3 separate regions of the Homo sapiens genome follow, and regions 2 and 3 are each linked to region 1. The links come from fine-mapping of genetic effects on gene expression. A gene starts in region 1. Each other region holds a variant in brackets. All regions are shown on one strand. Distances are from middle to middle.

The links. PIP is the estimated chance that this variant, and not a neighbour inherited with it, causes the effect. A credible set is the group of variants that fine-mapping cannot tell apart.
Region 2: its variant is the best candidate, but not a certain one, in a credible set for the expression of THAP6 in whole blood (INTERVAL, PIP 0.65).
Region 3: its variant is the best candidate, but not a certain one, in a credible set for the expression of THAP6 in whole blood (INTERVAL, PIP 0.55).

What each region holds. Positions count from the first base shown.
Region 1 is chr4:75,509,745-75,517,930 of GRCh38, forward strand. It overlaps THAP6 (THAP domain containing 6), which reads left to right and starts at 4,729. Exons shown (of 5, transcript NM_144721.6): 1 at 4,729-4,776; 2 at 5,689-5,788; 3 at 7,028-7,235. The coding sequence starts at 5,709. It overlaps RCHY1 (ring finger and CHY zinc finger domain containing 1), which reads right to left and starts at 4,659. Exons shown (of 9, transcript NM_015436.4): 1 at 4,453-4,659. The coding sequence starts at 4,542. RefSeq lists enhancers at 3,768-4,698, 4,385-4,864, 4,699-5,629, 5,205-5,424.
Region 2 is chr4:75,442,943-75,451,128 of GRCh38, forward strand. It overlaps LOC107986230 (a long non-coding RNA gene), which reads right to left. Exons shown (of 3, transcript XR_001741514.2): 3 at 5,554-5,717. Among named protein-coding and RNA genes, the nearest start is that of RCHY1, 67 kb to the right of the region's middle. RefSeq lists an enhancer at 4,763-5,331. The variant C/G (reference allele first, on the strand shown) is at 4,944.
Region 3 is chr4:75,538,557-75,546,742 of GRCh38, forward strand. It overlaps LOC124900717 (a long non-coding RNA gene), which reads right to left and starts at 2,004. Exons shown (of 2, transcript XR_007058142.1): 1 at 1,899-2,004; 2 at 1,303-1,476. It also overlaps a transcript of THAP6 not described here. The variant C/T (reference allele first, on the strand shown) is at 3,902.

The sequences.
Region 1 (8,186 bases):
GGGTTTATCAGGAGTTTCCACTTTTGCTTCTTCCTCATTTTCTATTGCCACCACCATGTAAGAAGTGCCTTTTGTCTCCCGCCATGATTCTCAGGCCTCCCTAGCCATGTGGAACTGTAAGTCCAATTAAACCTCTTTTTCTTCCCAGTCTTGGGTATGTCTTTATCAGCAGTGTGAAAACAGACTAATATAACACCCCAATTTCATTCTGAGCCTAAACAGCAAACAGGCAACCTCTTCTTAGACATTTCCAGATAAATTCATTTACATTAAAAATAATAAAGATTATATTCTTATTTTACTAGCTTTTATTAATCATCAACCTCATATCTAATATTGCACAAAATGCAACAAATGTAAGAGACAGCCCTTGTTTTCAAACACGGCAAAGACTGCCAGTTGTCCACCAAAATCTATCCTCTCCTTCCTGGGCACAATTGTTCAGCTATATCAGACAGATGGCCACATGCCCTAAAACATGACAAAATGATACAACAGAAAAATCTCATCCCTGGAGTGACCATGTGGAGCAAAGCCTCATCACCAACCTGCATCACTCGCCTTGGAATTGTTAAATGGAAAGAAATAAAACCTTTACTCTTTAATCTACATCACTGTTGGGTTTTTTCATTACAGCAACTTTACCATTACAAGTATATCAAGAGATTTCCAGGCCAGTGACTTTCCAATACACTGTGACCTTGCAGATCCACTCATTTCTGAAGGCTTCCTATGCCTTGACTTACCATAACGTAGTTCATTCCTTAAAGATTTTAACACTTAACTGGCTTCCTTTTTCTGCAACTCTCAGTTCCTTAACTTTGTCATTTCCAATAACCTTGTCCTCCAACCCACTATTCTCATAGTTATACCGCAGAACAGTAGTTCTCAAATGGTTTGGTCTCAGGATCCCTTCACACTTTTTAAAATTACTGAGAATCCCAAAGAGCTTTGGTTTATGTGGATTTTATCTATTGACATATACCACATCATAAATTAAAAAGAATAGGTTTTTAAAATATTACTTCTTTTTAAAAGTAACAAACTCATTACTTGTTAACATAAATAACATGTTTTAATGAAAAATAACTATATTTTTCCCCCCAAACAGCTGAATTCTTCTATCTGCTTATGCATTCAAACAGTTGTGGCTGAAGTACAAAAAGAAACTCTGGCCTCACACAAATATGTACACTGGAAAAGAAAGGAGTATTTTAATAGCCTTTTTGGAGAATTATGGATATCATTCTCTGATATTACACTAGAACAACAACTCTTAAAGGGTAGTTGCAACATGAAATCTGAAATCGTATCAAGGAATATGATTGATATGATGCCTCTTTTCTTCCTTGGTTACATTAAAATCTATTGCTCTATCTTGCACTTCAAATGGATGTTTTACTCATGCATTGGTCATCTGGAGAATACCAGTTCAGTGAGTTATTTACATCTTCTAAATGTTCACACATTTAACATGCAATATCAAAAAATCATATTCATTAAAAGTCTTTAGGTATTGAAGAAAATCTCACCAAAAAAAGTCTTTTAAAAAGCTTCCAACCTCACAAAAGCTAGTAAAAGTTTTCCAAAATTCTAATTTTTGTGTGAAAGCTTGAATTTTATCACTGGCAACAAATACTGTCATTTTCATTTGTAGTGAGTCTCACTTTTCTCCTTTTTGAGAAAATGTCTGCCAACTACCCAAATGTGAATGACTACAATTTTTTCAAGTAAAAAATGCTGTTCCATGAAAAAAAGCAACTAGTTCACTTTACAATCCAATTTGCACAAGAGCTTTTCCTCAAGACAACCCTCTAATTTCAGTTTGCAGAAGTGTTTGATCAAAACTTCCCATGTCATTGAACAGCATATTAAAAGATATATTCAAGGGTTGAGATTTGGTTAAAATTAACGATTTTACTGCTTTATCAACATTTTTAAGTGAAGCTGGCTTTTTAAAAAAACTATAGGTGTAGTATAGTTCAGTGCCACTGTCTTGATTCAAGCTAAGATACTAGCAATACTAAACAGTGCTTTTCCACCATCAATGCGTGTGTCAACAGACTGAAAAAAAAAAAAAACAAATATCTTAGTGTTCATAGAAAGTAGTTTTGGCCTTGCAGAGCCCCTGAAAGGACTTCAGGAATCCCCAGGGTTCCATTCACCACACTTTGAAAACCAATGCTACAGAACAACGGCACCCTCTTTGCATCTCAATTCCAAGCATGAAATTCTCTAACCATTACCTCCTCCCTAACTTACTCCAAGTCTCCCCTTGCAACACCCTAGTTCCCTTCTCAGTTCCTCTACACTCATAGATAACAATCCCAACCCTAGTTAAATCCTATTTGACTTCTATCAGAAGCAGGTGAATATGGCTAGAGAAAAAGCATCACCGTCCTTGCTGGTTCATATGAGGTGGACACTTACTACCACGTTTCCCTGGTCAATTCTCTCATTCTTCCAGAGTCTAAGACCTAAGATTTAGATGATCATTTCACTTCTTCTCCTCTGGCTTTAAAACTCTAACAACTCTTCCTCCTTAACACTCTGCTGATGACCTTATTTCACTATAAAAACAGTAAACATACTTCCTGCTGACAGGCCTGAAAAGAACATCCTCCTATTATCTCTATTAACTTACTTGCAAATATACCTCATTCTCTGCCTTCCCTTAGGAAGAACTGACAGTCTATGTTTCTAAGGCCAACTCCTTCACTTGTGCACTGGATTTCATCCCCTTTGGCTACTCAGGGACAATGCCCTTACAGTTTTCTCACTCTCTCCTGCATTATAAAACGTTCTCACTCTATTGTATCATTTCCTAGAATATACAAACATGCTGTAATACTTCCTCTCTTAAAGAGGAAAAAATATGGTGCCAGATCTCCCAGCAACCACATCTTTTTTTTGCTCCCCTTTACAGCTAAACCCCAAGAATACCCTATAAGTGCTATTTTCAATTCCACTCCTCCCATTCTTTCCTAAATTCACTCTAATCCTGATCTCTCCACTAAAACTCCTCTTGTCAAGATCACCAGTGACCTCTTCCTTGCCAAATCCAAAGGGCAATTCTCAGTTATCTTACTCAAACAGCTGCATTTGACCCAGCTGACCACATCCTCCTTGAAATACTTCACTTGGCCTCTGGTATTTAAGGGGGGGGGGGGGGCGGGGGAAGGCAAAAACTGTTTGACACCTAGGGCGAAGTATCTTAGTGCTATGATACACAGATCTAATTGTGTGGTTTATGGGGGGCACCAAGATGTTAAATTCCGTTTTAGACCTCAAGTTTGAAAGAATAATAATACATCTCAGTAGAAATTGAATCATAAGGATAGCATTCAATTTCCTTACACAACACTTGGTGGATGACCAACATTTTTAAGGAGCTTCATCCAGTTCAGTGGAGCAATGTTCGTCAAGCCATGACCTATAGAAAAGAGTTTAGGATGCACGTACAGGCCTGAGACTTGAACTTGCTTCTAATAATGAGGCAGTGACCAGCAAGGCTGACTTGTGAAGTGAAAGAACAAAAAATAATAATACTCAGATTGACGATGATAGTAACAGTCATGGTGGTATATATTTACTACTCATTTACTTCAGGGAATGCGCCCTGTTAAACACTATACACGCCCTTTAGTATATAATCCTCATACACTTTTATGAAACAGGCGCGATCATCTCCATTTTACATACGGGGTAGAGAGGAGCTAGCTAAAATCAGTTATTAAAGAGGAGAGCTAAGATTTGGGGATAGGGCGGTTGAGGTTCCAAAGCTCAAGTTTTCTAAGCAAAATTTTTGTACTGTTTCTTGCAAGGAAAATCAGGAAACTTCAATTGAATACGTGCCAATTTAAAAAAAAATACAGATTAAGAAGTTTTCTCAGAGTAACAATACATGCTTATTAGGCACTTTCCTATGCATAATTTCCTATTTAATGGCAATTACATGATTGTCTTCTTTTTTGGGACACACGTTTTCTCCTACGTCTGAACATGTGCACTGCCTTTAACATGAAGCTGGCAGGCTATAAAACTTTACCACAGGAGCTGAAATCGTATTCGGGTTCTCCACTTGCTTATTTCCATTATCTCCACTTCCATTATTTCATCACACACCTGAACGGAAAACCCCAGTACAGGCCCGGGGCTGCCTCAGTCTACTTCGGCAGCAAAAGACGAATAAGCCCACTGGCAGAGACCACTGTGCAAGCCTAATCACTTCCCAAGAAGGGTTTTGCTTTAAAGGTACGAAGCAGGTAGGAAAGGTGGGGCTTATCGCCTTGCCAAAAACGTTCTCCTCAAGAAGAACCCAGTTCCAGGTGGAAAAGGTATCCTGAAAATCAGGTTAACCTCAAACTTAAATCCAAGCCTAACCACCTGCCCAGCCCGCCCCAGCCCAACCTGACGGAAGCTTGTCAGGGAAGAGTCCATAGAAGGCGTCACCTTTAGGAGACATCCTCTGTCATAGTGCTCGCAGCCCCGCTGACCTCGCTCTTGACCGCTGGCGCCATCTTCCCGGGCCGTCGCCGCCATCTCCTCCACCTCCCCTCACATTCCACCGATCCTTCCCCCAGGATAAAAACCACGCCCAGAGAAGCTGCGCCTCTCTAGCACACCCCTCCCAGCCCCAGCGGCCACTAGCGACAATATGGCTCCTAAGCACGTGACCCGGGGCAGACGGATTTCCGGTTCCCGGGGCTACGAGGCGGAAGCGAAGGCAGACGCAGTCTCCGTCGTTGACGTTAGTCGCAGTCTTCGCTGCTAACGGTAATAACTCTTAGGTTGCCTGTTTTCCCCCAATCGCTACCCGCCCAAATCTCAGGGCGTAGTTCGGCGCGAGGTTGGCGGCAGCGGCGCGGAGACGCTGGTTGGCCCCAGAGGAAAGGACGCTCACTGGGCGCATCGTTACCTGTGACGGGTCCTCCCTCTCTCCCTCCGGTGGCGGGGAGCCTGGAGAAAGGGGCGGAGCTCGGCCCGGGCCCTGGGCTCAGCGGGTCCCGCGCGCTGCTCTTGGACGCCAGGGTGCTCGCTGGCACCTCGAAGTGCTTCTTGCTTCCTCCCTTTCCCGTTTACTTGCTGTTCTTTCAAAATATGTACTGACATTCACTATTGCCAGTCACCAGCTAAACCGTGAGGACAAAAAGTAAGGAAAAATAGACACACTCCACCATGACCTCATGGAACTAACAAGACTGGTGGAGGAGGAAGACATTAATAAGAGCAATCACTGCAATAAATGTAAGATTACAACCTGGAGAAGTGCTAGGAAGAAGTGTGTGTCCTGTGAGAGCTAATATTAGAGCAGCTCTGACAATCTGAGTGTCAGTGAGGGAAGGCTTCCCTGGGGAAGCGATGCAAGCCGAGGGCTGAAAGATGGGTAGGAGTTAGTGTGCAAAAGGCTTTGTGGCACAAAGAACATGGTACCTGTTAGAAGGTGGAAGGAAAATGTACAAGCCAACAAAATTGAAATCATACTCGGGGTACACAGCTAAATATGTTTCTCCTTATTAAAGAGTCAAGGCCCTGGAAAATGATGTAAGCAAAGCTGCAGGTGTTAGAAGAAGATATTTGTCTTTAGCTTTCTATCCTGATTTTGTGTTTCCTAAAACACCGGGAAAGGGAAAATATTCCCCTTCAGCTTTCCGGTTACTAACTCTTAACATTCTAATTTTCTTTCAGTTTTGTTATGAGTTGCTAAAATGGTGAAATGCTGCTCCGCCATTGGATGTGCTTCTCGCTGCTTGCCAAATTCGAAGTTAAAAGGACTGACATTTCACGTGTAAGATTTTGCTGTAGTTAAGCCAAATACTTTGGCCATGTTATAAAAAGCAAAAGACAGTTCTACTTAAGTCTTCAATTTTGAACTTTAGTTCCCGAGTCCTTTTTAAATAACCTTTTTGTTAAATTTGAAGTGACAATGTGATACCTTTACATGTTTATAATTTAGTTTAAAAGTTTTAAGATATCAGAGACTTTAAGATATCAGAGACTGGTTTACAAAAAATACCATAAGGCTAACTTTTGCTAATATTATTACTTTGTATTTTATCACACCGCCAAAGAAATTCAATGTTGTTTACATGTAGTTTACAATCTGAATGAAGGAGCTTTGCTCGAATATATTGCCCTCTCTATTTAGAAGTAGATCAAGCATAGGTTATAGAGAAAAAATACAAATTACAAGTTAAGACCAAGGGATCTTTAGCTGTGTTGCAAATAAATCAAAATGATTTTAGTTTCATATTTTAGCCATTCTCTTGACAGCCATGAAGGAGTAAGTGAAGGAGTAATAAGATTTAATAGTTGTTCACTTGTTAAAGGTTTATTTTGCTGCTTTTGTGCCAGGCACTGTCCTATGTGTTAGAGAAAGATCTCCTAGCTATTTTGTTAGATATAATAAATCAAAACTGAGCATATATATCCTACCTTATTTTAGAAAAATTTGAACCAGCTTGAAAATTGAGTAAGATATGGCTATTAGGCCTTCATATCTCTCAAAATAGCTCTGATCTCCAGAACTCCACACTGCAGCTATTCTCTGCATTCATTCACTAAGCATCTGTAGACCTGCTATGTATTAAATGCTGTACTAAGCAATTTTCTGGTGCTGACAGAAGAATGGAATTACAAGGGGCCCTTTTTATCGAGGATAAATTCTGGATATCATTTCAGATAGGAAAAGGCCCAAGTGATAATTCTTTTATCATCTATAGATGAATAAATACCTTCAATTGTGGATCTTACTATAAGATGCTAAATATCCATTGAAACTTTTCTTCCTTATAATGTGAGAAAAAATGAAATGAGGGCCATATATCTGCAGCATGATTGGCAGAAAATCTGAATATTAAAACGGAAAGTAACAAAAGCATGAATTATGGTTTCCTAAATATTATAATTCTCAAGACTAATAAACTAGTTAACGAATCAATTTAGTCACAGTTGTATAAGGCAGCTTTAATTCAATTATATAGCAATAGTATTTGATTTTAAAATATTTTTTGTATTTTTTTTCTAGATTCCCCACAGATGAAAACATCAAAAGGAAATGGGTATTAGCAATGAAAAGACTTGATGTGAATGCAGCCGGCATTTGGGAGCCTAAAAAAGGAGATGTGTTGTGTTCGAGGCACTTTAAGAAGACAGATTTTGACAGAAGTGCTCCAAATATTAAACTGAAACCTGGAGTCATACCTTCTATCTTTGATTCTCCATATCACCTACAGGTTTGTTTATGAGATACTGTTTACCATCATTGCTCACTTTTTTTTTTTTTTTTTTTTGAGATAGAGTCTCGCTCTGTCACCAAGGCTGGAGTGCAGTGGCGCGATCTCAGCTCACTGCAATCTCTGCCTCCAGGGTTTAAGCAATTCTCTGCCTCAGCCTCCCGAGAAGCTGGGATTACAGGCACCTGCCACCACACCTGGCTAATTTTTGTATTTTTAGGAGAGATGGCGTTTCACCATCTTGGCCAGGCTGGTCTTGAACTCCTGACCTCGTGATCCACCCTCCTCGGCGTCCCAAAGTGCTGGGATTACAGGCATGAGCCACCGTGCCTGGCCATTGCTCACTTTTTATGATACTATTGAAGAACCTTCACCACTCTTGCTAACATTTTTATTGTTTGCTTATTCATTTGAAGTCTGTTCTTGAAGTTTTAAATTTGTAGACTGCATCTTCAACTTTTGTAATGTGTAGTAGGAGTATTTTACCAGTAACCACTCATAAATATTTGTATATTACTAAGGTTTGATGAAGTGGGCTGACTTTAGGAATTAGCATAACTGAAGATTTTTGTCTAAAAATGGAAGTTAACGTAAGAAGGTTGAACTGATGTTCCAAGTTGGCAGTCCTTAACACTGGGGCAGAAGTCAGGAGTAGAACCACTAACAGGACTAAAGTACTTGTAAGAGCCACATACATGCAAGCATAAAGTCTAGGTAGGATCAAAAGGAAGAAAACCAAAAAAGAGATCTAAGAACAGGAGAAGAAAAGGTCAGGAAAAGAAAGAACAGTCAAATAAGTAAACGCTAATTGAATTCCATGTTTTTTCTGGGTAATATTCCCATGGGTTGGCTGCCTCACCCTCAGTATCTCTCTTGACTTTGTATACCTGAAAGTGAATTTCTAGAACCTATAGACATTGATTGATTGATTCCAATGTGGAAAATTCAGGG
Region 2 (8,186 bases), 67 kb before region 1:
TTTGGGTTGGTTCCAAGTCTTTGCTATTGTGAATAATGCTGCAATAAACATACGTGTGCATGTGTCTTTATAGCAGCATGATTTATAGTCCTTTGGGTATATACCCAGTAATGGGATGGCTGGGTCAAATGGTATTTCCAGTTCTAGATCCCTGAGGAATCGCCACACTGACTTCCACAGTGGTTGAACTAGTTTACAGTCCCACCAACAGTGTCAAAGTGTTCCTATTTCTCCACATCCTCTCCAGCACCTGTTGTTTCCTGACTTTTTAATGATTGCCATTCTAACTGGTGTGAGATGTTATCTCATTGTGGTTTTGATTTGCATTTCTCTGATGGCCAGTGATGATGAGCATTTTTTCATGTGTTTTTTGGCTGCATAAATGTCTTCTTTTGAGAAGTGTCTGTTCATGTCCTTTGCCCACTTTTTGATGGGGTTGTTTGTTTTTTTCTTGTAAATTTGTTTGAGTTCATTGTAGATTCTGGATATTAGCCCTTTGTCAGATGAGTAGGTTGTGAAAATTTTCTCCCATTTTGTATGTTGCCTGTTCACTCTGATGATAGTTTCTTTTGCTGTGCAGAAGCTCTTTAGTTTAATTAGATCCCATTTGTCAATTTTGGCTTTTGTTGCCATTGCTTTTGGTGTTTTAGACATGAAGTCCTTGCCCATGCCTATGTCCTGAATGGTAATGCCTAGGTTTTCTTCTAGGATTTTTATGGTTTTAGGTCTAACATTTAAGTCTTTAATCCATCTTGAATTGATTTTTGTATAAGGTGTAAGGAAGGGATCCAGTTTCAGCTTTCTACATATGGCTAGCCAGTTTTCCCAGCACCATTTATTAAATAGGGAATCCTTTCCCCATTGCTTGTTTTTGTCAGGTTTGTCAAAGATCAGATAGTTGTAGATATGCGGCATTATTTCTGAGGGCTCTGTTCTGTTCCATTGATCTATATCTCTGTTTTGGTACCAGTACCATGCTGCTTTGGTTACTGTAGCCTTGTAGTATAGTTTGAAGTCAGGTAGTGTGATGCCTCCAGCTTTGTTCTTTTGGCTTAGGATTGACTTGGTGATATGGGCTCTTTTTTGGTTCCATATGAACTTTAAAGTAGTTTTTACAATTCTGTGAAGAAAGACATTGGTAGCTTGATGGGGATGGCATTGAATCTGTAAATTACCTTGGGCAGTATGGCCATTTTCACGATATTGATTCTTCCTACCCATGAGCATGGAATGTTCTTCCATTTGTTTGTATCCTCTTTTATTTCCTTGAGCAGTGGTTTGTAGTTCTCCTTGAAGAGGTCCTTCACATCCCTTGTAAGTTGGATTCCTAGGTATTTTATTCTCTCTGAAGCAATTGTGAATGTGAGTTCACTCATGATTTGGCTCTCTGTTTGTCTGTTGTTGGTGTATAAGAATGCTTGTGATTTTTGTACATTGATTTTGTATCCTGAGACTTTGCTGAAGTTGCTTATGAGCTTAAGGAGATTTTGGGCTGAGACAATGGGGTTTTCTAGATATACAATCATGTCATCTGCAAACAGGGACAATTTGACTTCCTCTTTTCCTAATTGAATACCCTTTATTTCCTTCTCCTGCCTAATTGCCCTGGCCAGAACTTCCAACACTATGTTGAATAGGAGTGGTGAGAGAGGGCATCCCTGTCTTGTGCCAGTTTTCAAAGGGAATGCTTCCAGTTTTTGCCCATTCAGTATGATATTGGCTGTGGGTTTGTCATAGATAGCTCTTATTATTTTGAAATACGTCCCATCAATACCTAATTTATTGAGAGTTTTTAGCATGAAGGGTTGTTGAATTTTGTCAAAGGCTTTTTCTGCATCTATTGAGATAATCATGTGGTTTTTGTCTTTGGCTCTGTTTATATGCTGGATTACATTTATTGATTTGCGTATATTGAACCAGCCTTGCATCCCAGGGATGAAGCCCACTTGATCATGGTGGATAAGCTTTTTGATGTGCTGCTGGATTCGTTTTGCCAGTATTTTATTGAGGATTTTTGCATCAATGTTCATCAAGGATATTGGTCTAAAATTCTCTTTTTTTGTTGTGTCTCTGCCTGGCTTTGGTATCAGAATGATGCTGGCCTTGTAAAATGAGATAGGGAGGATTCCCTCTTTTTCTATTGATTGGAATAGTTTCAGAAGGAATGGTACCAATTCCTCCTTGTACCTCTGGTAGAATTCGGCTGTGAATCCATCTGGTCCTGGACTCTTTTTGGTTGGTAAGCTATTGATTATTGCCACAATTTCAGCTCCTGTTATTGGTCTATTCAGAGATTCAACTTCTTCCTGGTTTAGTCTTAGGAGAGTGTATGTGTCCAGGAATTCATCCATTTCTTCTAGATTTTCTAGTTTATTTGCGTAGAGGTGTTTGTAGTATTCTCTGATGGTAGTTTGTATTTCTGTGGGATCAGTGGTGATATCCCCTTTATCATTTTTTATTGCATCTATTTGATTCTTCTCTCTTTTTTTCTTTATTAGTCTTGCTAGAAGTCTATCAATTTTGTTGATCCTTTCAAAAAACCAGCTCCTGGATTCATTAATTTTTTGGAGGGTTTTTTGTGTCTCTATTTCCTTCAGTTCTGCTCTGATTTTAGTTATTTCTTGCCTTCTGCTAGCTTTTGAATGTATTTGCTCTTGCTTTTCTAGTTCTTTTAATTGTGATGTTAGGGTGTCAATTTTGGATCTTTCCTGCTTTCTCTTGTGGGCATTTAGTGCTATAAATTTCCCTCTACACACTGCTTTGAATGCGTCCCAAAGATTCTGGTATGTTGTGTCTTTGTTCTCGTTGGTTTCAAAGAACATCTTTATTTCTGCCTTCATTTCGTTATGTACCCAGTAGTCATTCAGGAGCAGGTTGTTCAGTTTCCATGTAGTTGAGCGGTTTTGAGTGAGATTCTTAATCCTGAGTTCTAGTTTGATTGCACTGTGGTCTGAGAGATAGTTTGTTATAATTTCTGTTCTTTTACATTTGCTGAGGAGAGCTTTACTTCCCAGTATGTGGTCAATTTTGGAATAGGTGTGGTGTGGTGCTGAAAAAAATGTATATTCTCTTGATTTGGGGTGGAGAGTTCTGTAGATGTCTATTAGGTCTGCTTGGTGCAGAGCTGAGTTCAATTCCTGGGTATCCTTGTTGACTTTCTGTCTCGTTGATCTGTCTAATGTTGACAGTGGGGTGTTAAAGTCTCCCATTATTAATGTGTGGGAGTCTAAGTCTCTTTGTAGGTCACTCAGGACTTGCTTTATGAATCTTGGTGCTCCTGTATTGGGTGCATATATATTTAGGATAGTTAGCTCTTCTTGTTGAATTGATCCCTTTACCATTATGTAATGGCCTTCTTTGTCTCTTTTGATCTTTGTTGGCTTAAAGTCTGTTTTATCAGAGACTAGGATTGCAACCCCTGCCTTTTTTTGTTTTCCATTGGCTTGGTAGATCTTCCTCCATCCTTTTATTTTGAGCCTATGTGTGTCTCTGCACGTGAGATGGGTTTCCTGAATACAGCACACTGATGGGTCTTGACTCTTTATCCAATTTGCCAGTCTGTGTCTTTTAATTGGAGCATTTAGTCCATTTACATTTAAAGTTAATATTATTATGTGTGATTTTGATCCTGTCATTATGATGTTAGCTGGTTATTTTGCTCGTTAGTTGATGCAGTTTCTTCCTAGTTTCGATGGTCTTTACATTTTGGCATGATTTTGCAGCAGCTGGTACTGGTTGTTCCTTTCCATATTTAGTGCTTCCTTCAGGAGCTCTTGTAGGGCAGGCCTGGTGGTGACAAAATCTCTCAGCATTTGCTTGTCTGTAAAGGATTTTATTTCACCTTCACTTATGAAGCTTAGTTTGGCTGGATATGAAATTCTGGGTTGAAAATTCTTTTCTTTAAGAATGTTGAATATTGGCCCCCACTCTCTTCTGGCTTGTAGGGTTTCTGCCGAGAGATCTGCTGTTAGTCTGATGGGCTTCCCTTTGAGGGTAACCCGACCTTTCTCTCTGGCTGCCCTTAACATTTTTTCCTTCATTTCAACTTTGGTGAATCTGACAATTATGTGTCTTGGAGTTGCTCTTCTCGAGGAGTATCTTTGTGGTGTTCACTGTATTTCCTGAATCAGAACATTGGCCTGCCTTGCTAGATTGGGGAGGTTCTCCTGGATAATATCCTGCAGAGTGTTTTCCAACTTGGTTCCATTCTCCCCATCACTTTCAGGTACACCAATCAGACGTAGATTTGGTCTTTTCACATAGTCCCATATTTCTTGGAGGCTTTGCTCATTTCTTTTTATTCTTTTTTCTCTAAACTTCCCTTCTTGCTTCATTTCATTCATTTCATCTTCCATTGCTGATATCCTTTCTTCCAGTTGATTTCATCAGCTCCTGAGGCTTCTGCATTCTTCACGTAATTCTCGAGCCTTGGTTTTCAGCTCCATCAGCTCCTTTAAGCACTTCTCTGTATTGGTTATTCTAGTTATACATTCTTCCAAATTTTTTTCGAAGTTTTCAACTTCTTTGCCTTTGGTTTGAATGTCCTCCCGTAGCTCAGAGTAATTTGATCGTCTGAAGCCTTCTCCTCTCAGCTCGTCAAAGTCATTCTCCATCCAGCTTTGTTCCGTTGCTGGTGAGGAACTGCGTTCCTTTGGAGGAGGAGAGGCACTCTGCTTTTTAGAGTTTCCAGTTTTTCTGTTCTGTTTTTTCCCCATCTTTGTGCTTTTATCTACTTTTGGTCTTTGATGATGGTGACGTACAGATGGGTTTTTGGTGTGAATGTCCTTTCTGTTTGTTAGTTTTCCTTCTAACAGAGAGGACCCTCAGCTGCAGGTCTGTTGGAATACCCTGCCGTGTGAGGTGTCAGTGTGCCCCTGCTGGGGGATGCCTCCCAGTTAGGCTGCCCGGGGGTCAGGGGTCAGGGACCCACTTGAGGAGGCAGT[C/G]TGCCCATTCTCAGATCTCCAGCTGCATGCTGGGAGAACCACTGCTCTCTTCGAAGCTGTCAGACAGGGACATTTAAGTCTGCAGAGGTTACTGCTGTCTTTTTGTTTGTCTGTGCCCTGCCCCCAGAGGTGGAGCCTACAGTGGCAGGCAGGCCTCCTTGAGCTGTGGTGGGCTCCACCCAGTTGGAGCTTCCCAGCTGCTTTGTTTACCTAATCAAGCCTGGGCAATGGCGGGCGCCCCTCCCCCAGCCTCGCTGCCACCTTGCAGTTTGATCTCAGACTGCTGTGCTAGCAATCAGCGAGACTCCGTGGGCATAGGACCCTCCGAGCCAGGTGCGGGATATAATCTCGTGGTGCGCCGTTTTTTAAGCCCATCGGAAAAGCGCAGTATTCGGGTGGGAGTGACCCAATTTTCCAGGTGCCGTCCATCACCCCTTTCTTTGACTCAGAAAGGGAACTCCCTGACCCCTTGCGCTTCCCAAGTGAGGCAATGCCTCGCCCTGCTTTGGCTCGCGCACGGTGCACGCACCCACTGACCTGCGCCCACTATCTGGCACTCCCTAGTGAGATGAACCCGGTACCTCAGATGGAAATGCAGAAATCACCCGTCTTCTGCATCGCTCACGCTGGGAGCTGTAGACCGGAGCTGTTCCTATTCAGCCATCTTCAGGTAATAGCAGCTCTATGTCAACATATTATATTTTCAATTTATGATGAGTTTATCAGGATATAACCCCATCGTAAGTTAAGGAGCAGCTGTACAATAAAGAAGACCTGAACAAATGTGGAGACATACCATATTGTTAGATTGGAAGACTCAACATAGTAAATTCTCCCCAAATAAATATACAAGTTTAATATAATTTGTATCAAAATCCCAGCAAAATCTTTTGTAGATAGACAAGATTATTATAATATTATATGGAGAAGCAAAGGAAGTAGAATAACTAAAAACAATTTTGAAAAAGAAAATGAGGAATCAGTCTACCTAATATCGATACCTATTATATAGCAACAGTGATCAAGAGTGTATAGTATTGGCAGAGGGATAGACATAGACCAATGCAACAGAACAAAGAACGCAGTAGATAATGTCTAACTGACTTTTTACAAAGGTGCAAAAGCAATGTAATAGAGGAAAGGCAGCATTTTCAACAAATGGTGCTGGAGCAATTGGACATTCATAGGCAAAAAGTAAATCACAACGTAAGTCTTATATCTTTTTATGGTGGATGGGGGATGCCCAGACTGTCACCCAGACTGGAGTGCAGTTGTGCAATCTCACCTCACTGCAACCGCTGCCTTCAGGGCTCAAGCGATTCTCCCACCTCAGCCTCCTGAGACTACATGAGCATGCCATCACTCCCAGCTAATTTTTTTTTTTTTTTTTTGAGAGGGGATTTTGTCATGTTGCCCAGGCTGATCTTGAACTCCTGGATTCAAGCAATCACCTCACCTTGGCCTCTCAAAGTGCTGAGATTACAGGCATGGGCCACCACTCATGTAAGTCTTATATCTTACACAAAAAAATAAATTACTGACTTAAACATAAGACAAAACTAAAACTATAAAACTTTTAGGAAAAAAAAAGAGAAAATCCTTGAAAACCTAGGGCTAGACAACAAGTTCTTCAACTTGAAACTAAAAGCATAATTCATAAAAGGAAAAAATTAGTAAATTGTAATTCATTAAAATTTAAAACTTTTGTTCTTGGGAAGACCTAATTAAGAATAAGAAAAGGCAAGCTACGGACTGGTAAAAAATATCTGCAAACAACATAGCTGATGAATGACTAGTTCCTATAATATATAAAGAACACTCAAAATTCAACAATTTAAAAAATCCAACTAAAACATGTGCAAAAGACATGAAGGGACATTTCACCAAAGAATATATACAGAAAGCAAATAAATAGATGCAAAGATGTTCAACATCATTAGTCATCAGGAAAATACAAATTAAAACCACAACGAGTTATCACTATACACCTCAGAATGGCTAAAATAAAAAATTGTGAAAACATGAAATAAAACGGCAAGAATGAGTTCTAAATAATCATAGTTATAACAAATGTAAATTGTACTCTTGGTTTGGATGATAAGAAGAAAAAATAAAATCCAACAATGTGTTGTTTACAAGACCCACAGAGGATCAGAAATTTGGTTGATGTGAGGAAAAAGTCCACACATTTGGAGTCAGAAGTGAATAAAAACAGCTCAGTAATTATAACTTTATTTTCAATTTCTGCAATTTATTTTCAATTTTAATTTTGTTTGCAGTGTGGTTCGGTCCACAAGACTACCCTCACTTCAGAGGCCAGTCATGAGTATTGGGTCTCCAGGTTACCCATATTTCTGTTCAACTTAATTTCAAATTCGGAGTCTCACATTTCCCTCCCCTACAGGTTTAATACTTTGTAGAACAGCTCATAAAACTCAGGAAAGCAGTTTACTCATGTTTACTGGTTTATTATAAAGGATACAAAGCAGAAGCAGCCAAGCAGAAGAGATTCATAAAGTATGGGGAAGCAGGGGTAGAACGGTTCCATGACCTCTTGAGAGCATCCTCCCCTAGCACCTTGATGTGTTCACCAACCCAAAGCTCTCCAAATCCCATTGTTTGGGATTTTTATGGAAGTTTTATTATTTAGACATGGTTGATTAAATCATGGGCTGTTGAAGATTAGTTCAATCTCCACCTTCTTCCCCCCACCCCGAGAAATTTGGGGGTGGGGCTTAAAGTTCCAACGATCCAATCATGCCATGGGCTTTCTGGCAATCAACCCTCAACCTGAAGCTATCTAGAGGCCTCTAGCCACCAGTCATTTCACTCAAATACAAAAGATACTCTTATTATTCCTAAGATTCTAAGGGTTTTAGAAACCGTGTGCCAGGAACCGTGGACAAAAACCAAACTGTTTTTATTCTACCGCAATTGCATATAGACTTTGGTATGCAACAAAAACAAATAGATTAGAGAGAGAGAGAGACAGAGAGAGAGAGATAATTGATAGATAGATGACAGTTAATAGATAGAAGATAGAGAGATAGATGATAGATGATAGATAGATAGATAGATAGATAGATAGATAGATAATACAGGGAAAAACAAAATTTACTCAGGTTGAACATTTGCATAACATATGACTTAGCAATTCCATGCCTAAGTGTATCTGCAAAAAAAAACTCTTGCCCATGAACACTGGGAGACATGCACTGGAATGTTCATAGCAGCATTGTTTGT
Region 3 (8,186 bases), 29 kb after region 1:
GGGAAGAGGGAAGCCAGGTTTCTAAAACCTAAAGGCAAGCCTGGGTAGCGCCTGAGCCATTGATGCCTCTTGTTGACTACCCTCTTCATAGGTCTCATTATTTTACTTTCACATTGCTGCCTCAAACTTCATTTAATATTTTAACAACTGTCACAGCTCCCTTTGGAGAACACGCTCAAGATAAACAACTGTCCCCCTGCTGCCACATCCCTCACCTTCCTGCTAGCTGTGCTTCTGATCATAGAATTGTGCCTGATGCAGAGCAGGAGCTGACAGAGATTGAAACGAATGAAGAAAATGTTAGATTAGGACCAGGAAACCCAAGAGCAGAAGACCTACAATTTGTAATCTAAGAACCACATGAGGGTCCATGATGAGCACTAGTCACAGCAGTTGAGGAAGAAATGCTGAGAACCTAGCACATTCAACATTTCCACACGTATTTTTCAGGAGCCAGGAACTGTATGCCAGGGAATATGCTAGGCATTGGAGAAACAACATAGATTCACTTCCTGTCTTCAAGGAGATTACATGCTAGTATGAAGTTCCAAAAGCCATACTCCAAGGATACCAGGGAGCGCAGCCATATATCTCAAGACAATGGGTTCTTGAATTCAGCCTAATGCCTTTCTCCTCATTGTGCACTACTTTATTGGACAACACACATGGCTCAATAGATTTATACCACAGCATCTTACAGTTTAAGTGTTTGGGTCTATCATTTTATATCTGTCTTCTCAGGTACATGAAGAAGTTTACAGACTAACATGTTTAGTGTAATAACCCATCACATATACTGCTTTCGAAGCCCCATACGATAGTGTGAGAGAACAACAGGAATAAGGTGAAGACATTCACAACCTACAGGGACATACAAGTACATAACACAAATACAGATAAGTGGGCAATATAGCAGGGTCTGTGGCAATTAAAGGTACTGAAACTATGAAATTAATGGAGCTTCAAAATTACAAAATAGAACATAAGTTTGTCAGTGTGGGCACTTTGAAAGTGCTGTCCCAGAACCTGGATTATGTAAGCACCTTCCTGGGATGTGAGAGTAGGAGACCAAACCAGCTGGGGAGAACCAAACAGACTTGGGTTCAAGTTCCCAGCCTCCCACTTCATTATATATGGGAAGTGGGTCAACTTGCTGAACTTCTCTGAGCACTTACAAAGTAGACAATAGCACCTTACCCATTGGTGGTGAGAATTTTATTTCATTGCGTATAAAACGTAGACCATACAATGAGCCATCCACATACTGTTTTTCTTTCTTCTTTAAATTCCATCCCATCCCAGAAACACAGGAAAAGGAAACAAGAACAGGAAGAAGAACAAAAACCAAGAAGAGAGAAATGCATTTCATAGGGAATGGCAAGTGGACAGGCAACAGTGGTCAGGTAGGCTATTTGTGCCTTAAATAATCTTCCCTCTCTTGTGGCAGCTCAGAAGCAGGCAAGGAACATTGTATCACTGAAAGGGAAAATTTCAATCACCATCCTCCTCTTCATCCTCTCACTCCAATACTGACAAGCCATTTAATCTATCTTAGATATGTTTCGTTCATTCACCCGTTCATTCAACTTTATAAAACATCTTGACAGTGTTACTTAGAATGTTCCCAGATCAGTGTATACAAATCAAGGCACTTGGAGCAGAATGTAGATCGACTACATCACAAAGCACACCATTTAGCTCAGTCAATTTTTTTTTCAGTCAGAATGTTTTCTGAGCAAGACTTCCTTAGTAAATGAAATCATATGTTGATTTACATTCTGGAACAAGAGCTTTTTCTCATTCTGAACCAGTCAGAAAGAGTTCATAGGCTAGCTACTTTGTGTAGCAGTGTCTCAGAGCATCAAGTCACTTACTAAACAGATAATCCTTGAACTCACCTGAGCTCCATGTTCTGTGGTCAGTTAACAGCAGAGGAGTTCCTGACAGATTTGTGTCCAATAATAAACTTCTCAAATCCTTGTGGTACAGCTTGTGCAGTTGAAAGGTAATATCGCATCTGAATTTGCAGATTTGGGCCTTGTGCTTTTTAAAACAGAAGAGTTTTATTAAATAAAGAGTGAAGTGTATGTGCTATGCAGGATGCTAACCACAGATACTAGTGATTAGTACCTTATGGAGACAAGCATTCAGCTACAGACTTGCCAGTAAAATGTACTCAACATAAAATTTCAATAAAAATAAGGATACTGGTGCTTATTAAACAGGTAGATTTTATAACGGTATAAAATGTTGCCAGGCTACACAGCTGAAAGAAATTACCTTTGAAATCCTGAGGATGTAAAAAAATTTTGGATTGTCACTCTTATTATAACACTTGTAGATGGGTCTTAAGAGTAGGGAATGTCTTGATTATTGAGATGTACAATTCAAGTTTCTATGGCCATCACCATCATCTGGACATATTTTGTTGAAAATCACATGGGAAAATGGTGTAACCAGAAACAAGACATGGCTATCCAAAGGATCAAACTCACCAGGACACCATAAAGACTGGTAAATTTTAGGATGAAATGCAAATGTATTCTATATATTAAAACTAAAAACCATTTTAGTAAGTTATTTTTAAATGTACCTGATAGCAAAGGGGCTCTGTATGTGCCACGTGAGGGCTACGTGAGGACTGTTCATGAAAGCATAAAGTAGAAGGCAACCCAAATACCCATCAAGCAGTAAATGGATAAATAAAACCGTGGCGTGCCCATGGAATGAAACAATAAGCACCAATTCAAAAAGACATCAATCCATATTATCGCCATGGGAAAACAAGACCTTAACATGGATAAAAACAATATAAAGCACAACTCAAAATAGTATCTCACTTATATAAAATGTTTTGAAACCTACCTACAAAACAATTTATAAGTGTGTACGTGTGTGTGTGTGTGTGTAAGTATATAGAAAAAGAAAGAAAAGATATATGCAAACTTTTAAAGTGGTTACTTCTAGAGAGGGGGTTATATACTTCCTGGGAACAGAGACAGAGAGTGCACATGAAAGAAAGAGAGATGAAGGGAGGGAGGAAAGGAGAATAAAAAAAGGAAAGAAGGGAGGAAAAGAAAATTATAATAACAGCATTCTACAAATTTAAATCAAAACCAGCCGGGCACAGTGGCTCATGCCTGTAATCCAGCACTTTGGGAGGCCGAGGCAGGTGGATCACTTGAGGTCAGGAGTTCAAGACCAGCCTGGCCAACATGGCAAGACCTCGTCTCTACTAAAAATACAAACATTAGCTGGGCATGGTAGCAGGCACCTGTAATCACAGCTACTCAGGAGGCTGAGGCAGGAGAATCGCTTGAGCGCAGAGGGGCGGAGGTTTCAGTGAGCCAAGATTGCACCACTGTACTCCAGCCTGGGCAACAGAGCAAGACTGTCTCCAAAAAAAAAAAAAAAGAAAATCAAAACCATTTCATCTCTGAAAAATGAGGTATTACTTGTTATCATTACCTTCATCATCCCCCTGGGACATTGGCTAAAGTTGGATGTAAGTCTTGAATTACTAGTATTTCCCGTGACACCTACATATTTCAAAGAAATCTCCCAAACCCCTGCCAGCCCAACTATTTGAGATTTAAGAAACCACTGTCTGGGTAGGTGTGTTTTAAAGATTTTAATTAGCTTGCCTGTGACTGGTCACCAGCAGAACCCTACAAATGACTGCCTCCATCCCTTGTTGAGAACCTCACAATACAGCTTTCCAACTGACCCAATACCTCAGAAAACTAAAGAACGTGACTTCAGAGTACTGATATCTGGGAAGTATTGCATGCTCTAATAGAGCTGATCGCAATTTTCATAAATCCTCGTATTTCTGCCTGTGTTTTGTTTCAGATATCCATGTTCAAGAGGAAATGTTTGTTCAAGGCAAAAAATTATTTCT[C/T]AGTAACCATCATAGCTAACATTTATAAGGTGCCAATCTTTATTCAAAGCACTTAAACTTTATTAACTCATTTAACTTCACAACAACCCTATAAGGTAGGTACTATTATTATTATTCTCATTTTACAGAAGAGGAAATTAAACAGAGAAAAGCTAGGTAATTTGCCCAAGGTTTCACAGCTGGTATAACGATGTCTTCATATCATTATATGAAGTCACGTTGTTGTTTGTTCTGATCTACAATGCAAGAGCCAGAGACTTTTGTTTTGTTTTGTTTTGTCTTTTTTTATTTATTCTGGAGACCCAGAGACTTTGATTCACTCATTGTTGAATTGTTGCTGAACATTCACAATGTCTTAAAGGCCAGACTTCAGTCACTCCATTTGGAAGCTCCAGTTGGGGCATTTAGAGGCTGAAGGATAAAATGTGAACTCATCTTGTGTCTGAAGCTGAGGAAAGCCCATAGTTACTCATTACCACAATCTGGATCTGTCTGATGCTACTGCCAAGCATAAACAGGGCAGATGCACACTCAGGATGAAGTCACCTTACCACATACACAGGCAAAACATTCAAATATCCACAGGTCTCACCAGCAAAGGAGTCTGTCTAGTCACCTGGTTTCTCTCAGCTCTCAGGAAGAATGCATGGAATGATAAAAGATTGGTCCTGATCTCTGCTAATGCTTTACTCAGCCACTGGAACTGACACAATTTTTTACTCTATGTCTACATCTCTAGTCTATAATCAAATACAAGAGCATAAAAAATTAATAGCTCTTCTTCCTCCATTTTAATACTAGGCTTAAGAATTTTCATTCTCTATGTGATTTGCTACTATAGTATATTAGTAATATTTTAGAACCAGTTTTAGCAAACCACTTGTGGCATACTGTGTATGGCTTCAGGTACAGCTGGATCTAGGAGTTCAAATGATGTTTTCAGAATCTGGAGTCTCTCAACTCTGCTTTATCAAGCAGCCTCTCCCTTCATGTAGGTATGTTCCTCACAACTTCAAGTCCAAAGACAAAATGTGTGCCTCCTTTCCAGTCATTCATATGACAGTCCCAGGACTAGTTCGGACTGAGTCTGATTGAAATGGCTTGAGTCAAATACTCAACCCTAAATAAATATCTGTGGCCATAGGAATGCTATGCTATGATTGGCAGTCATAGATTACAGCCGATTCCTGGAACCAAGAGAGTAGAGAAATGATGGTTTTCCAGAGGGAACTCAGGGTTAAGTCCTCAGAAGAACTGGATAGGTACTGGGCTGGGCAAGCCAAAATAATGGCAGTGGAGCAGAGAGAAGAGAGTAGGCTGGCTCTGTAGTGGTAGAGCATAGCTGCAGAGTGAAGATTTTTTGTTAGTAAATCGCTTCGTGTACATTTGTTTACCAGAACAAGGGGAACAGCATAGAAGTATTCTATCCTTGTTATGGCCATGATAGACAATATAGGCACTATGGGTCGCCCCCAGTAAATTACATTCTTGGAAGCTGACTCTTCTTAGCAGTGTCCCATCCACTCCCTCCCTGTGGACTATTGCTCTTCCCACTAGCCATGAGGTAGGTCCATGTGACATTTTGACATTTCTCAGAATAAACCAAACATTTATATAGGGTGATTTTTTGAACACTTTTTATAATGGAAAGTTCCAAACAAAAGTAGAGAGTATAATATACTCTAATGCATCCATCACCCAGCTTCAACAGTTATAAAACATGGACAGTCTTGTTTTATCCACACCCTCACTCTCTCCCCTCCTCTGATTATTTTGAAGCACATCCCAAACAACATATAATCTGTAGCTATTTCAGCATGTATCTCTAAAAGATAAGGACTTTATTTTTTAATTTTTGTTTGTTTTTTAGAGACAGAGTCTCACTCCATCACCCAGGCTGGAGTGCAGTGGCGCAATCTCGGCTCATCACTCCGTCGCCCAGGCTGGAATGCAGTGGCGCAATCTCGGCTCACTACAACCTCTGCCTCCCAAGTTCAAGTGATTCTCATGCTTCAGCCTCCTGATCAGCTGGGACTACAGGAGTGCACCACCATGCCCAGCTAATTTTTGTATTTTTTGGTAGAGACGGAGTTTCACCATGTTGGCCAGGCTGGTCTCAAACTTCTGGCTTCAAGTGATACCCCCCAACCTCGGCCTCCCAAAGTGCTAGAATTACAGGTGTGAGTCCCCACCACCACATCTGGCCTAGGACTCTGTTTTTTTTTTTAGACAAAGGTATATATCACTGTTTCATCTAAAAACATTTAACAATAATCTCCCTCCAAACATTGTAATGGGTTGATATGTCTCTAAAGTCTCTTTTAATCTGTAGGTTCCCACTCCATTATTTATTTTACCTTGAAAAAAAATTAACCAAGTGTTTTGCCCTACAGAACCTGGGTGAATTTTAAGGATACTATCACAGGGCTCTCACTGCAATAGGACAACAGCCAGAGTCTCAAGAGCACACCTACTATAGAAATTAAAATCAAGAATTCTGGAGCCAAATTGCCTGGGTTCATAGCATGGCTCTGCCACTTCTTAGCCACAGGACAACCTCTCTGTGCCTCGGTTTTCTCATCTCTAAAATGGGGATGACAATAGTAACTACCTCATTGGGTTGTTTTAAGAATTACATGACTTAATGTATGTCCAATTCTTAGAACAGTGATGCTTAGGATATAGTAAATGATAACATAGATGAGGAAATTGAGAGGCAGGGAAGCTGACTGGTCCAAGGTCCTGCAGCTAAACAATGGCAGGGCAGAGAGCACAGCGCGGATTCACCCCACTGGTTTAATACTCTGTTTCAAACCATCGATGAATGCAGGCTCTTGTTGACGTGGGCATTACTCTGCCCCTCACCGGGATGTTACTGCCATTCTGTTGCTAAATCACCAGGATGAGGTTAGGAACCTTCTCCAGGCCTCAGGCTCCTGCTCTGCAAACTGAAGGAACTAGAGGTGTGGTTAAGGTGCCTGAACCCCCTTTTAGGAGAAATCCCAGCAGAAGATGCCTAAGCAAGCCTTGCAGGAAGTCATCTAGGCCACCTTCAAGTCAGTGCCAACCGCAGAATCTTTAGATCCCCCAAAAGAGCACCTGTCCCTTTGTGGTGCTTCTGACAGAGAACCCCAAGCAGCCCTAGACCTCCCTCAACCTGACTCAGGGGTGCCCACCACTCCCCATCCTCCCTGACACACATAATCCTGGCTGAGGCAGCCCAAATAGCAGCTTCCCCGGATTACTCACCGTGGCTCTGTGAGAAGAATGCCTCTCCCAGGCAGCGTCCGCAGTTGTGACCACAGATGGGAGACTAGCCTAATTGGACTTACCAGCAGCTCACCTTGGCTTCCTCAAGGCCCAGCAGCAGGACAGGGCCTTTCTCTGAGCAGAACTTGAATGATAAAAGAAGCAGGTGAAGCTGATCCAGCCTCAGACAGACCTCCAGTGGGCCCTTGAGGGTGTGAGAGGCAGCTCTGCGGGCCCACCCTAGAACTGCGTGTGGACAGCTAGAAAGCCTAGCCTTTCTGACATTGCTGGCCTAAGAGGTTTCATCTTTAGGGTTTTTTTCCTTCTCAGGCTGCTAGCTTCCATCTCACTTAATACAGAAGGATGGTCTCAATTTAAGCATCTGAAACAAATTACTTAGCAAAAACCATTTTCGTTGTATCCAAACCCAGTGTCTTCAGTTTGAGCTCTCTGAAATTCCAAACACATGTTCAAACCACCAGGAAAGAGGGAAAGAGAGACTGAGAAGAGGGGGACTGAAGCAGGGAAGTCACTATGAGATTCTCCCCAAAATCCCGATGTTCAGCCTCTGGGTGAAGGACATTCCATCCTGAGACGGAGGGATTGCTCTCTTCACCAGCACCTTTCTGAAGTGTCTGTGTTAGAGGCAGTTCAGTGCTCACACAGCAGCCTGAAATTCTTAGTCCTCCCACACATCTCCAGTCAAGGAGCACTGTCCATGCCCCTTCATTGTCCATAAACACCCAAGCTCTTATTTAGAAGCAATTGATTTCTCAAATCTTTTCCTATGTATTTATTCACTAAACCTGTCAAGCAACACATTTAAGCATGACAGAGAAAGAATATGGGCATGTGTTAGGATTCCCTAGAGAAACAGAACCAATAGGGTGAGTATATGGAGAGGAGAGGTTTAGTTTAAGGAAGTACCTCATGCAGTTACGGAGGCTGGCAAGTCCAAAATCTACAGGGTAGGCCAGGCAGGCTGAAGACTCAGAGAAGAGCCTATACTGCAGTTCCAGTCCAAAAGCTGTCTGCT